Linked DNA regions of Homo sapiens: region 1 is linked to region 2. A link means that fine-mapping ties the variant in region 2 to the expression of a gene that starts in the linked region. Tissue or cell type: whole blood. Region 2 holds a variant in brackets; the other region holds the start of a gene. Each region is shown on its reference strand, or each on the opposite one. Region 1 holds the start of PPP1R13B (protein phosphatase 1 regulatory subunit 13B). Region 2 has its middle 190 kb from the start of LINC00358.

Region 1 (4,376 bases), not on the chromosome of region 2:
GTGTTGACCAGGCCGGTCTCGAACTCCTGGCCTGGCCTCAAGCAATCCTCCCATCTTGGCCCCCCAAAGTGGTAGAATTACAGGCGTGAGCCACTGCACATTAACAACATTCACGGCGATTCCTGATGGGCTGCTCGTGAACTTTGGTCTGTGTAATGGAGAGACACAGAAGGGCTTTACAGGGTTGGGCCGTGTGTGCTCCAGGAAGATGGAGGGCAGGGGCGTGTTGGGAATGGTGGGGGCGTGGAGGCTAGAGCAGTGGGCTTATAATGAATGAGCTTGGTCCAGGTGGGAGGTGATGGGCCGATGCCTGGAGGTGGCAGGCTGGGTGGAGAGGAGGATGGGGACCAGCGGGAAGGACTTGAGGGGGAGCTGACCAGCCTGCCTCAAATGGACCCTTACCTGGAGGATATAGGATGCTTTGGTGTGAGGCACGGTAGCTGCCACTGTCTGTGCCCACAGGTCCTGCAGGCAAGAGGGGAGCCCTTGTGCCAATGCTTCCCTTCCTGGAAGAGCAGGCTCATTTGGATCACCTTACCCCGGGGGGCACCTCTCTGAAGAGCCTTGGCAAAACCTGTCCTTTGTCAGGCTTCGTGGGCCAGAAGTACCCCTTCGTGACTCAGGGACATCAGCTGTCAAAGCTGGGGAAACCAAGGCCCAGAGAAGGAGTGCAAGTTGCCTAAGGCCCCACAGGAGGTCAGAAGCAGAGCAGCTAGAATTAGAACTTAAGTATGTCTCTGACTTTCAGCCTAGGATCACTCATTATCTAGAGCCTCCTCTTCTCTCCAAACTCTGCTCCCAGAAGAGGGGTGTCATTAGCCATTCATGCCCAGGTGTGGATAGGTTTAAAAATCCCAGGGACGTCTGTACACTAAGCCTCCTTGCTAATCACGGCCCAACTACAGAATGCTATTTATGGAACAGCTACCACGTGCCACAAATTGTGCTGGGCGCTTTCCATCCCTCGCATCCGAAAAAGCCTCTTGACACGAGGCAGGCACTATTATCCCTACACTCTCCCATCACAGAGACAAGCACACTACGATGCAGAGAAGATGCGGCTTGTTTAGGATCCCAGGCGAGGGTGTGGCGGAGGCGGTGCTGAACCAAGTCTGTCTAACTGGAAAGTCCACACTCGCAAACACGAGCCCCCGTGGCCTCTGAGGGACAGGGGTGGCTCCCCAGGAATGGGCTGGTGGGAGCTCCCTGGCCTCCTCCCTTGCTCTGCCCCCACTCTGCAGCAGCCAGAAGCCTCTCCGAGAACCAGACAGGCTCCAGACTGACCCTGACCTCGCGGCGGCCTTCTCCACTGGGCCGGCGCTTCCCAGGGCGGCTTACGCCTTCTGTGTCTGGGGCCATCCGCAGACCTTGCCTTCTGATGCCCGTGGGAGTTCGGTGCTGCCGCGGGGAGCACCTCAGTCCCCCTGTCTGCTCTCCGCCGCGGTCCGGGCGAATGGCACCATGTGGGGGGCCCCGAGCGGGTGCCTACCCCCCTGGCAGCCTTTACTGAGGGTCTGCTCAGGGCCCTGCCCAGGGCTCTGTCACTCCGGCGCTCAGGCCCGAGGGGGCGGCGCCTCTGGAGACGGGACTGCAGGGAGAGACCCAGGCCCTGGAGACGAGGACCGGACCCTCCCCGGGGACGCTGGAGCTGGACCTCGAGGGATGCTGGCGCAGGTGGGCACAGGTGGCACAGGTGGGCGCGGGGTTCTAGGCGGGAGATCGCTCGGGCGAAGGCCAAGGCTCGGGAGCTGGTGCGGGGGGCGCGGCCCCGAGAGCCGCGGAAGACGCCGGTGGGGGAGAAGCAGGTGCCAGCCAAGGGCGTCGGGCCGGGGCTGGTTCCGAGCGCGCGGCCTCGGGTCACATGCTCGCTCCGGGGGCCCCCCGCGCCCCTCCCACTGGCCTCTGGGCCGCAGCCCCACGGCGCGCCGGCAGCCGGGGGTCAGGCCGCGGTCAGAGTGCGGGCGCGCGCCGTCGCCGCAGGGACGCTCCCGGCCCACAGTCGGCCCCCGGGAGCCCGGGTTCGAGTCCCGGCCCTGCCGTGATCCGCTGCGGGACCCGGGCCGGCCCTTCCCTGTCGGGCCTCAGTCCTCCCACCGTCCGCGGTCTTCCCTAGTCGGGGCTCACGCAAGGGCGGGGGAGGCCACCGGTGCCCACTGCGCGTCCGCCCCTCCCCCGCCGCCGGGAGCGCGGACGCGCACGCACCTGGCCGCCGCTGAGAGCGAGGGTAGCGGGCGGAGCCGGGAAGCCCCGCCCCTCTCCCCGCCCCCGCTCCCACCGGGCCAATCAGAGGGGGCTACGGGACCCGTGCGGGGCGTCGCGCTGGGGGCGGGGCCTGCGGGGGCTGAAGAGCGAGCCGGGCGGGCGGGCCGCAGGCTGTCGGGCTGGGGCTGAGGCTGAGGCTGAGGTTGAGGCGGCGGCGGCGGCGGCCGGGTGCCCGGGACAGCGACGCAGCGCGCCGGCGGCCGCGACAGGGCCAGCGAGAGCCCCGCAGCCCGCCGCAGCTGCCGCCTCGCCGCGGCCGGGCCGGAGAGCACGGCGGCGGGAGCGCGGCCTTAGGAGGCGGCCGGAGCGGTGGGCACAGCTCGGCGCGGAGCGTCCTGTCAGGCGGCGGCCGAGGGCGTCGCGGACTCTCCCCGCGATGATGCCGGTGGGTGAGGGCGGGCGGGAGGTGGCGGCGGCTTCCTCCGCGGGCCGCTGGCCAAACCTCCTTCCTCCCGCGGCTCCCAGCCCCCGCGGGCCGGTGCGAGGCCGGGCGGGCGGGGAAGGAAGTGGCTGGGCGGGCGCGCCCGGCCGCGGCGCCCCCCAGGCGGGCAGGTGGGGGCGGCGCCGGGCTGTCAGCGCGGGGCCGGGGCCGCCTGCGGGCCCTTCCTGCTCGGCCTCCGCGGCCGCGGGGAGAAGCAGATGCATTTGGGGCCGGTCATCTCCTCGGTCCTCTCAGGTGCGCGGTCGGACGCTGGGGCACAGGTCTGGTGGGTGGCGCAGCTGTGACCCGCCTGAAACGAACGTTCTGGGGTCGCCCTGGGAGTCGGCGGGGTGGGCACCCGCGCCCGGAGTTCCCACACTCTGCAGGCGCATTCCCGTAGCCTTCGCGGTTGTACTGAGGAAAGGTGCCGAGTGCACGGATTTGGAGAGCCATCTTAGGAATTCCCTTTTCCCGTATCTGCAATGTTGGTTCGTTTTGCTTTAACTGGTTTGTTCTCCGTGTTCTGAAGGTTGAACGAGGTTCGTTTGTAGTGGTGGTGTCTTTGTCCTGCCCTTAAGGATGCTTTCGCCTAGAAAGACATTGGCCATTAGATTTGCCATCGTCCTACCGACCCTTCCCTTTACCTATAATCTGAATAGGAGGGGATGCTGAATTCTGATTTTTAAAAATTGGCTTTTTGGGAGGTAAGCATCATGACTTATGAAAAAATGTGGGACTGGTTGTACCCAGTTGGAGAGGTATTGGTTTTCTGAGCGCCTATATCGTAAGTAAAATTCTCAAACACGTTTATAGTAAAGTAACACAGTCATTTTTTTAACCTACAATACTACGTTGAAAATCACATTTCACAGGAAAGTGCAGTTTCCCTGCATTCTCTACTTGAATATTGCCATTCTGCTATGCTGCACCCAAGGACATTTAGATTAGATCCCCCTTCTTCCTCTTTGATTTCCTTTCTCTTGATAATCTCTTCTCCCCGTTTTTAACGGATTCCAGCATGTTTTGTAGCCGGCTTTCAGCGTTTTCCAAGTCTTAAGGTTTGATCTACTTGATCCTTAGGTCTTTCTTTAGCATCAGACTTGTTGGGTTTCTAAACATTTGGTTTTAAATGAATAATTGTCTTGTAATGGAAAGAGAATTGGATGAGCATCAGAAGATCTGGGGTGAAACGCTGGTTCTTCCACTTTTTAGCTATGTGACCTTGAAGAAGTCAAGGTCTTTGAGCCTGGAATTACCTCTAAAGTAGGGATAAAAATGTACCAATATCTGAGCGCTGTCCTGAGGATCAAATAGGATGATGTATCCAAAAGTGATGGTTGAACAGAATGTCATACAAATATTTATTATTCTTAATATGGCTTTGAATTTTCAATTTCTAACTTTATAAGATAAGGCATTTGGAAACTTCCCTCCCTAATTCTCACTAGCTAGATTTTGATGAAAGGCATTATGGTGTTTCAGAATTTTGAAAGTAGTTTTAGTTAAATCCTGTAATAGTTGATTGATGCATTCATACTGTGGTGGCATTGAAGGATATCTAGAAAAATTTTGGCTGGCTTCGTCGTTGTATAATGTTTAATTATAAATATCCTGCTAAGAAACTTGGCTTACATTTTCCATATGATTCATTCAGACATCTTACCTCTATTCCACGGGAGTAGAGTTTTGAGTT
Region 2 (4,395 bases):
TTTATCTATTTCCTCAATATTATTAATATAGACTAAGAAAAGAAAAAGATATATATTCAATTTTACTTTGAGAGAGCTTGATAAAAATAAATAAAAACATAAAAATTTATATTTTATTAAAATAGATTGAAGGAAATTACATTTTCTAAAAATACCCATTAAAATTTTTGTTCTTTGGTTTGACAGAGAGTATATGTTTGTAAAAATAGTGGGGAGAAAGCTCCACAAATCTGTGTTTTTGAAAGCACAGAACACAATAGAACTTTAAGGCAGTTCTACATGCTTGGGAAATTTATAATTTATTTGTTCTACATTTCCAAAAAGGAAAAAAGCAATCTAAATTTAAGATAAAAATTGTATATCTTTGAATATATTATTTCTTTCTTCCTACTGCATTTTTATTGGTTTTTGTGAATTTATTTTGTCTTTGAATCCAATTAGTGTGACTCTATTAGTCAGAAACTTCTTTGTAAGTTGTAAGTTTTCTATATGATTTGTTACCATATCTGGTCATAAATTCATCAAGAAAAGATAGTGTCATGCTAATAGATCCTAAGGTTACGAATTGCATTATCCTTCACAGTTTTCAGTGCAGAGTTCAGTTTCTCATGAGGTATATCTATACTACAGAGAATTCTAATAATAGATTTTTAAAAATGAAGTCCATTAAATAAATCAAAGAACAAATTGATAGAGAATTGTTCTCTGTCTCAACGACTTTATGAAGTCAGTGTTTGCCCCAAATTTTTATCCAAATTTTCATAAAATAATAAAAATAACTGATTTTTTAGAAATTTAAGGCAGAACCCATAGTAGTTTATTAAAAACTAGAACTTTATTGGGTTACTGCATATCTTTAAAAATGTGAACTTTACATTATCAAATATTTTTAAAGAAAAACATCAAATATATCTTTTATAGAAAAAGTGATGCTTTAAGAAGATATTCTACATTTTCCCTGGGTTTCTGTGTCCTGATACATTATTATGTAATTAAATGAATATAATATATATCTAATATATATATATCTTAAGTTTGATAAGCAAGTGAATTTTTGAGAGATCGTAGAATTGTATCAATATGTTATACCAATCCTATCATAATTACAACTTCGTTGGCAGTGCAGTACCATAAAAAACATCGATTTTTTCTAATAAAATTTTTCACATTGCTCTTAATATGATTCAGATATTGTTATAAATATATTGTCTACATCTATCCATTTAATCATCACAAGAGCAGTATGTTAGCTATGATAAATCTTCATTCTGCGGATGAAGTAACTGAGAAACAATATCCCAAGGGCACACAGTATTATCAGAACCAGAATTAGGATCCTGGCCATTCCCCTCAAGAGTCTGTGCTCTCAAACACTATGCTAGGCTGCTACTTTGGGACTGTCACATTTTAACTCTGACATTTAAGGCGAGTTACTTTAAGTTTCTTGTGTCATTTCTCTTTCTGGATCTGTAAAATAGGGCAGTAATGGCTTCCGTTTGGTGCTATTCAGAAGAATGTCATATGTGTGTGTATCAAGATTAAGATGAGTATAATAAAGTTAAAAAGTGCCTCATACACTGTGACTATTATATTTTTGTCTTTGATTCCACCGCTAGTAAAATAAGTTTTCTCAAAAAAAAAAAAGAAAAACAATAAAGAGTTGTTGACCTGTCAATTCCCATGATTCTGTTAGTACACATTATTATTATGTTTCTTTCTTTAAAATGTCAAGATACACTTATGATGTGAATGTTTAAACTTTGAAGTCTTTCACTTGTCTGACTAATTAAAAACATAAAATGTGGCATTTCTAACACATTTGGAGGATGGAAACAAAATAATGCACATTTATGTAGGTCTCTATCTGAAGACTTTTGAGGCTACTTTTAAAAAACAAGTTAAAAATGATTTTCATAGTTAAAGACTTCTGAAAAAAGAACTACTGTTTAGAAAACTCATTTTCTGTAAGCATTGTTTTTTCTACAAATATATTAAGAAAAGCAAATGTTAAGTATAATTTGCAGAATTACAGATAAATACACATTTCAAAATAAAAG[G/C]CTTATTGCATTGGATATAGATCTGCAAACATACAATTTGACCAGGCATTTTTCAGTCAATCCTGATTAAATAACAACATTTTTAGTACCATCTTTCTTTACTTTGAAAATTGATACTATGAATTCGGATCTTTATATGAAGAAGACGCCCCATATTATTTGCTCTTTTAAATATGATGCTTGGTAAAATGTGAAACATGTAAACTGCCTTATTGGATATTTGCATGGAAAACTAGGAAACCACAGTTTGCATGGTTATTTTGAACTGAAGTAAAGAAGTTTAAGATTGTTTCTTGATTTTTTTTTTTTAATTAACACACATGCCCTTATTTCTCTTCTTAACAGTACTAAATTTTCAAACTTTAAGGTTCGAGTAGAATTGACTCTCCTATTCCAAGGCCAGGGTAGATTCTCAGTCGGTTGCCCATAATGATTTGTTGAGTTTGACAAATGACATAAGTTATTCCAACTTGAATGTATATCATATTATTTACTAGAAATATGATTAAATACATTAGCTTTCTCCAACTGACTTGGAAACATAAAATATGAGGCTGAGATCTATTTCATTCTTAAAACTTCCAAGAAGCCCCTCCTGGAGTTGAAAGTGAGGTCAATATTACATCACAGGAAGATATTAGAGAGAGAGAGGGAAAGAGAGAGAGAGAACAAATTTACAACAAAATGTTGGTAGTCCTTTTGCATTCCAGACGAAGCTTCAACTGATACCTACAGTATCCCTGGCCTCTCAAATTTATGATTTAGTATAGTGCATTTGAAACAGTCTGTGTTAGGTTTATAACCAATAACATACATTAAATTAACTGATAAGCATTCCTTGTTTTTTTTTTTTCTCCCTGGACAAAGAACTGTCTTATTAGAAATGACCTTCAACACAGTCCTTGATAGAGCCATCGATTATTAGAGGATTACAGTAATGGGCTATAAGTTTAATTACTTGACAAATATTTTATTTTCCCCAAATTTAATTTGAGCCCTTGTCTATTATCATTAGAACCGTCAATAGTAAATGAAAGCAGTGAGATGCCTCATTTACGGTTTTGATGATCATGAAAGGACTGATAGGGCAGAACAAAAATGATACAGCTACTGCTCTCATAATATGCTTTACATACATAGATACGTTGTTAAAAATAGTGTGCAGGCTTTTTACTATTAGTAGCACTGTGCCTCAACTATGAAACAGGGAGAACATTTTTCAAACTGGCTGAGGAATGTTAGGACAATATTAAATATTATATAATTATTGCAAAATGGGTTTTACCTTGAATTCCAAGCTCTCCTCGATATAAGTGCAGACTTGTCATGTAAGTTATTCTTCAATTAAGTCCTATTTCCCTTCACTTACCATACCCTAGTAGCACTTCTTAAGAAATCCCCAGAAATTGGCAAAATTAAAAGACAGTTTTTTGCTCATAACAAAAGGTGAGACAAGACAATTGGGTGTCAGAGAAAATAAAATTATTCACTTGGATTTCAGGACACCTGCCTGCTGCACAGAATCTGATCAAGTTGGCTTGATGATTTTTATCCAGACCTTTGGGCCTTAGCCCTATAATTTTCTTCTCTGGAGCACTAGAATAGTCTAAGGTACTTTCAGGCTCAAAATTCTGTGATCTGAGAGTGCATCAATAGGTGCTTTCTTCAGCTCAGTTTTTAGATTTGAACTTGATTTTCTGCCTGTTCAAATATTTTTCATGCTAGTTTAAAGGATTCACAGTTCTCAGAGAAAGTGAGATCCTCAATAGATTCACGGAAATCACAGGGCTGTTCATTTACAGCACTAATGGGTGACATTCACTGGCAGAAAAACCTAATCCCAGAAATAAAGAACATTTTTGGCACTTTCTCAGCTTATTTGCATCAAATTGCTCAGCCATAATCTGCTTTTCCAAGCATCATTTTCTGTTGGACTGAATGCCAGATTCAGGATATATAAAGGAATTACCTATACTAAACACCAAGAAGATTAAGAACAAAAACAAAAGCAAAAAAAAAAAAAAAGAGAAAGAAGACAAATAATTTGTTTACTTTGTATATTCTCATTACATAATTTTAATTCATCTATGTATGCACCTGAATGTAAAAGCATAACCATGTTTTTATTTAAAATAAGATGAAAATGCTAAGTCCTGGGCCAGACACTTCATTAAACACAATATATACTCTATCTTAATGCTCACATGGATTCAGGATACAAGTTTGTTAATATTTTCATTTTATCAGTTAAGAATTATTGAGTGTCCAATGTGGTTAGGGTCACAGAGCTTGTTAGTGGAAGAACACTGTTCAAGCATAGCTCTATACATTCCCAAAA

Evidence for each region. PIP is the estimated chance that this variant, and not a neighbour inherited with it, causes the effect.
Region 1: PPP1R13B starts here. The variant in region 2 is the best candidate, but not a certain one, in a credible set for the expression of PPP1R13B in whole blood (TOPMed, PIP 0.73).

The regions. Positions count from the first base shown.
Region 1 is chr14:103,845,570-103,849,945 of GRCh38, reverse strand. It overlaps PPP1R13B (protein phosphatase 1 regulatory subunit 13B), which reads left to right and starts at 2,371. Exons shown (of 17, transcript NM_015316.3): 1 at 2,371-2,647. The coding sequence starts at 2,639. PPP1R13B-DT (PPP1R13B divergent transcript) reads right to left here and starts at 2,225. Exons shown (of 3, transcript NR_038436.1): 1 at 2,203-2,225. RefSeq lists silencers at 1,812-1,881, 1,902-2,031, 2,052-2,491, 2,662-2,861.
Region 2 is chr13:61,839,092-61,843,486 of GRCh38, reverse strand. No RefSeq gene overlaps it. Among named protein-coding and RNA genes, the nearest start is that of LINC00358, 190 kb to the left of the region's middle. The variant G/C (reference allele first, on the strand shown) is at 2,058.